Linked DNA regions of Homo sapiens: region 2 is reported to be linked to region 1. Evidence: microRNA targets listed by miRTarBase, many of them from high-throughput screens and not tested one by one. Region 1 holds a microRNA gene; the other region holds the end of a gene's coding sequence.

The links. The annotated mature microRNA hsa-miR-185-5p reads UGGAGAGAAAGGCAGUUCCUGA and lies in region 1 at 1,151-1,172, opposite strand. An mRNA with a match to its seed (bases 2 to 7 or 8) in the 3' UTR can be bound and repressed. Matches are read on the target gene's strand: a 7mer-m8 pairs with bases 2 to 8, a 7mer-A1 pairs with bases 2 to 7 and ends in A, and an 8mer does both.
Region 2: the mRNA of SLITRK5 is a reported target of hsa-miR-185-5p. Seed matches in the 3' UTR shown: 7mer-m8 at 915-921.

What each region holds. Positions count from the first base shown.
Region 1 is chr22:20,031,201-20,034,324 of GRCh38, reverse strand. It overlaps MIR185 (microRNA 185), which reads right to left and starts at 1,186; the gene lies at 1,105-1,186. The region is part of intron 1 of TANGO2 (transport and golgi organization 2 homolog); the gene reads right to left. RefSeq lists enhancers at 69-138, 1,822-2,041, 2,476-3,124.
Region 2 is chr13:87,677,863-87,680,986 of GRCh38, forward strand. It overlaps SLITRK5 (SLIT and NTRK like family member 5), which reads left to right. Exons shown (of 2, transcript NM_001384609.1): 2 at 1-1,754. The coding sequence ends at 403. It overlaps LOC112268106 (a long non-coding RNA gene), which reads left to right and starts at 2,078. Exons shown (of 3, transcript XR_002957486.2): 1 at 2,078-2,240.

The DNA.
Region 1 (3,124 bases):
CCAACCATGCTCTGATGGCAGAAAGAAAACAGACAGCTCAGAAACATCTGCAGGGCAAAGGAAGTGATGAAGAGCAAACTGGGTTTACAAAGCAGCAAAAGGAACTCGGTTTTTTTTTGTTGTTGTTGTTTTGTTTTTGCTCCTGTTGCCCAGGCTGGCTGGCATAATCTCGGCTCACCGCAACCTCCGCCCCCCGAGTTCAAGCAATTCTCCTGCCTCAGCCTCCCGAGTAGCTGGGATTACAGGCATGCGCCACCACGCCCAGCTAATTTTGTATTTTTAGTGGAGACGGGGTTTCTCCATGTTGGTCAGGCTGGTCTCCAACTCCTGACCTCAGGTGATCCACCCACCTCGGCCTCCCAAAGTGTTAGGATTACAGGCATGAGCCACCATGCCTGGCCAAAAGAACTCTTAGGAAGCTATTTTAGAAATGAAAGCTTCAGTGACTGCACATTAAAGCTCAGCTGTGGGTTTAAGAGCAATCAGGTGCAGCTGATGATGCAGAACCATCCCGAATGCAGTGCAGGAAGATGGGGAACACGCTGGGCTTTGGGAGTGCACCCAAGGTGCCACTGATGGGGTGGGCCCAGCACTCACCATGTGGCCAGAAGACACAAGTCCCTTTACTCTGGAGGAGCTGGTCTTTCCTGCACATGAGAACCCCTGGCTGCAGTCACTGGAGAAGCCCTGCCAGCTGGTCTCTACTGGAATCCCACTGGCCTGGAGCCCAGGGCTGCCCAAGGCCTGCTCACCAGGGACATGCTCCTCTGGGGTGTTAGAGAAGGCCGTTGGTCTCAATCAACTTCAGCCGACCTCAGCCCTCCCTGGGCTGCACGCCCAGCTGCTGGCAAGGCCATGGATGAGGGCAGTTCTGGCCACTGATACACGTAGGACAGACAGGCAGAAAGGCACCCCCAGTTCAGCTGCAGGACCCCACCATCCTAGCTGGCCAGGGTGCAGGGGCAGCAGACCAGCCCTCCAGGCACCAGTGGCAGGGAGGGCTCCATGGTCCAAGGGAAGGCCATAAACAGATCTCCGGACAGCCTGGCACTGGAGGTGTGGGCGCAGAGCCAAGGGCTGTGGCCTCGACGAAGACGCGGTCATTGGGAGGGAAGGACCAGAGGAAAGCCAGCCCCTGGGGAGGGGACCATCAGGAACTGCCTTTCTCTCCAATCCCTCGCCCCCTGCTCGAGCCAGGCCCACTGCCCACCGGCCCCCAACCCAGCTCTAGCCAGCAGGTCTCCCCCTCCCCCTGCCAGCTTCACCTCCCCCGACCTGTGACCTTGCCTTTGCCTGGGCCCCTGTGTGCTCCCTAAGCCAAGCCCTGCAGGTTCCCTAGGTCCTACAAGGTCCCCACACAGGCCCACCACAGCATTCCAACACCCTCTCATGCCTGCTGACTTGCCAGGCTCTGGGAGGGAGCCATGGATATAGTCCTTGTCCTTTTGGTCACCATATCTTGATCTGGGCGCAGGGCATGTGGGCACACGGGTGGCCAGGACCACTTCCCACAACTTCCACAGGTCCCATCACACCAGGTGAGGCTGGGCTCCTCAGGGCATCTCTTGTGCCACACAGAGCTCGCCCTCAAGGTTGCCCGAATTGGCCAACTCTACAGGAGGGTTGGTGTCCCAGGGAGAATCGTGCCTGGCTTTCCAGGTGAGGCTCCGCCCTGCCTGTCCCCACCCCTGCCCTGGGCTCAGCACTTGGGCCAAGCCCAACCAACTCTCAGCATGTCCTTGGCAGTCCAAGAAGGCCAGAGTGGTCAAAGCCATGCAGGGTTGGCCCTGAGGCCCAGGCGGCCAGAACCAGACCACAAAGAGCAGCTGGAGGAAGAGGCAGGCAGGAGGGTCTGGGGTCCAGTCAGCAGCCTTGCCCTGGGTCTCAGAGGCCACAGCCCAGAAGCATCTGAACATCTGCAGGAAGCCACGCCCAGTCTCTGCATCCTGCACAGGACCCCGCCTGCCCCAAGGGGCTAAGACCACCAGGGCAGCCTGCACACAACCACCAGGCTTGCAGAAGCAGTCAGATGGCCACACGCCCATCCTCTCCAGGCGGAAAATGCTTACCCCTCTCCATTCTGTCAACTGGCCTCACGGCCACCGGGATAGCAGTTGGGCAAGTAGGTTACAGGGCGGGTGGGGCAGGTGACGCAAAACCTGGCTGCCAGGGCGGGTCCAACCCCAACCGGAAGGAGGCTGGGCCAGGGCACCACAGGTGGGAAGATGCTGATGAGCTCCTCCCTGTGCTGTGTGCTCTGCAGCTGTGATCTCATCTCAAGAGTCCCAGGTCACATGGCAGGGATGGGCAAGGTGAGCCTGGAGGGGCTCATGGTGGGGCACCTGCTGGTTGGGCTAGAGGTGAAGAAGCAGTGAGCTGGCCACCCCGAGCAGGCACACGTGGGATGCTGGGATCAAGTGGGCCTGCTGGACCCTGCACCCACGGCCTGGCAGCCCCTGAGAGAGTCAGGATGGCCTCGGCACTGGATCTGTTCATTTGTAGCTCTGCTCTGCCCAGCCACGCTGTGGACACTCCTGGAAGTCAGCATGCTGCCTTCTGCTCTCTCATAGCAGGATCTGCTGATCCCCGCCAGGGTGCAAGAGGTCCCTGGGCAAGCTGGTGATGGGCAGCCAGCTTCCTCCTGGCCATGGTGGTCACTGTGTTCACATGTGGTCCTACTAGAAACATCATCTTGAAAGCAACTGGCATGACACAGGCACATGGCCAGGCCTCACCAGGCCCACAGGGATGGAAGAGCCCAGATATGTAGCCCAGGCTGACAACAGGAGGCCGTGTGGGCAGCAGTCGAGAGGAGCCATACTTCAAGACTGAAAGCAGAGCCTGTGAGGTGGGCAAATGTCCTGCCACCGACCTACGACACCAGCACAGCGCAGCAGGGCAACGTGGCATGGTGGTGAGGTTCCTGAGCCAGGACAAGAAAAGAAGCGTTGTTCTCATGGCTATTTGAGGAAGCACATCACCTCCACTCTGTCGCCCAGGTGCAGTCGTGTGATCATAGCTCACTGCAGCCTCGAACTCCTGGGCTCAAGCCATCCTCCCACCTCAGCCTCCCAAGTAGCTAAGATTACAGCTGCATACCACCACACCCGGCTAATTTTTTTTT
Region 2 (3,124 bases), not on the chromosome of region 1:
CCACCACTTGCGGAGCCCCGCCTACAGCGTCAGCACCATCGAGCCCCGGGAGGACCTGCTGTCGCCGGTGCAGGACGCCGACCGCTTTTACAGGGGCATTTTAGAACCAGACAAACACTGCTCCACCACCCCCGCCGGCAATAGCCTCCCGGAATATCCCAAATTCCCGTGCAGCCCCGCTGCTTACACTTTCTCCCCCAACTATGACCTGAGACGCCCCCATCAGTATTTGCACCCGGGGGCAGGGGACAGCAGGCTACGGGAACCGGTGCTCTACAGCCCCCCGAGTGCTGTCTTTGTAGAACCCAACCGGAACGAATATCTGGAGTTAAAAGCAAAACTAAACGTTGAGCCGGACTACCTCGAAGTGCTGGAAAAACAGACCACGTTTAGCCAGTTCTAAAAGCAAAGAAACTCTCTTGGAGCTTTTGCATTTAAAACAAACAAGCAAGCAGACACACACAGTGAACACATTTGATTAATTGTGTTGTTTCAACGTTTAGGGTGAAGTGCCTTGGCACGGGATTTCTCAGCTTCGGTGGAAGATACGAAAAGGGTGTGCAATTTCCTTTAAAATTTACACGTGGGAAACATTTGTGTAAACTGGGCACATCACTTTCTCTTCTTGCGTGTGGGGCAGGTGTGGAGAAGGGCTTTAAGGAGGCCAATTTGCTGCGCGGGTGACCTGTGAAAGGTCACAGTCATTTTTGTAGTGGTTGGAAGTGCTAAGAATGGTGGATGATGGCAGAGCATAGATTCTACTCTTCCTCTTTTGCTTCCTCCCCCTCCCCCGCCCCTGCCCCACCTCTCTTTCTCCCCTTTTAAGCCATGGGTGGGTCTAACTGGCTTTTGTGGAGAAATTAGCACACCCCAACTTTAATAGGAAATTTGTTCTCTTTTTCCGCCCCTCTCCTTCTCTCCTCCCCTCCCCTCCCTTCTCATTCCTTTTCTTTGTTTTTAAAGGATGTGTTTGTATGCATTCTGGACATTTGAATTAAAAAAAAAGTATTGTGATCCTGTAAAGGATCACCATAGATGTGGACAAATCATTAAAATTACAGAGCTATATGATCCATAATTGATTAGTCAAAATAACTTATTGATGAAATATACAAATATTTTATTGTAGCACCTATTTTTATATGCACATTTAGCATTCCTCTTTCCTTCACTATTTAGCCTATGATTTTGCAGAGGTGTCACACTGTATTAGGATCTGCATTTCTAAAACTGACGTGGTATCAGGAAGGCATTTTCAATCATTCAAAATGTGGAGAATTTAATGGCTAAATCTTTAAAAGCCAATGCAACCCACCCAATTGAATCTGCATTTTCTTTTAAGAAAACAGAGCTGATTGTATCCCAATGTATTTTAAAAAATAGGGCAATTGATTGGGCCATTCCGAGAGAATTGTTTGCAAGTTTTGGGTTTTATTAGAAAATATTTGAAAGTATTTTTATTAATGAACCAAAATGACATGTTCATTTGACTACTATTGTAGCCGATTTTCGATTGTTTAACCAAACCCAGTTGCATTTGTACAGATCCACGTGTACTGGCACCTCAGAAGACCAAATCATGGACTGTACAAGTCTCTATACAATGTCTTTATCCCTGTGGGCAGCAAGCAATGATGATAATGACAAACAGGATATCTGTAAGATGGGGCTACTGTTGTTACAGTCTCATATGTATCCCAGCACATGTAATTTTTTAAATAGTTTCTGAATAAACACTTGATAACTATGTCAAATATGAGGGATGGAAGTAATGATTACTTAAGGTGCAAAAGACTTAACTATGTGTGATTGATAGAATCTCCATCATTAACAATTTAGGAAATAGTTCCTAAACTTTATTCCTAATACAAAATGTGTTTCCCCTAATTAGCAAAATTGTAAAGTATATAGTATATATATAGTATATAGTATATATAGTATATAGTATATATATAGTATATAGTATATATATAGTATATATATAGTATATATAGTATATATGTATATATATAGTATATATAGTATATATATAGTATATAGTATATATATAGTATATAGTATATATATACTATATATAGTATATATATATATAACATACATGACATATATAAGTAATTTATTCCTTTGTTGGTTCAGGGAAGTATGATTTTCTAAATGTGTCGCTTAATGTGTTTATTAATGCAGTTTCAATTATATACACTCTTTCCTTACTGAAGTATTCATCTACTACGTGGAGCATGGTAAGTAATATATCGCATATTCACTTTTCTCTTAATACAATGTAATTGTCATATCAGTATTATTTATTCAGTCTACAGTTTTCCATAGTTTTCATATTTTTAATTTGTGTAAAACTACCTTCAACAGTTATGATGGATTCCTTATCTAAAGTTGATCAGTATTCTAAATGCTCAAAATGGTGTATATGAGCTCGTCATCTTTGAATAAGGTTTTCTAGTGAGTTTAGACACAATTTAAGGATAAGAAATGTTTCAATTATGTGCTTCATTGCTATAGGTGGATCTCCCCATAGTTTCACCTGGAATTTGTACAATATCAAGGGCTGTTCATGAACTTTGTGTTTAAAGAACAATTTCCATGGCATTCTGCCACAAAGAGGCAGCATTCACCCATGAGAAAATTGACAGTAACTACTTGAATTCAGGTTGAACAGGTGGTACCAGTTTCCCGGAGGATTAAAAAAAAAACAAATTGTAATGCTACATTGACCAAGTACAGTAAGCTGTTCATATTCTTTGCAACATTTTCCTTTCTAATTTTTTTTTCAAAGGGGAAAGGAATAAGCTTAATAATGTCATGGTATTATCATGAAGAAAAGTGCATTGCTTGCTCTTCATCTACCTCCTCTATATTAGATCCAAGATTAGAAAAGAAAAAAAAAATACTAGCATTTGACTTCAAAATTGAGATTGGTATTATTCTTCACAGCAGCAGGAAGTTATTTTTTTAATGTCAGTATCACTTCCTCAACCTTATTATATATAGATATGACAGTTTTATAAATTATAAAATATAAATGTAAAGTGGAATCCTCCATGTAACTTAGTTTTATTTCTTAATTGGTGCATAAAATAAAAAGATAAGAATTACATAAAATTAATGA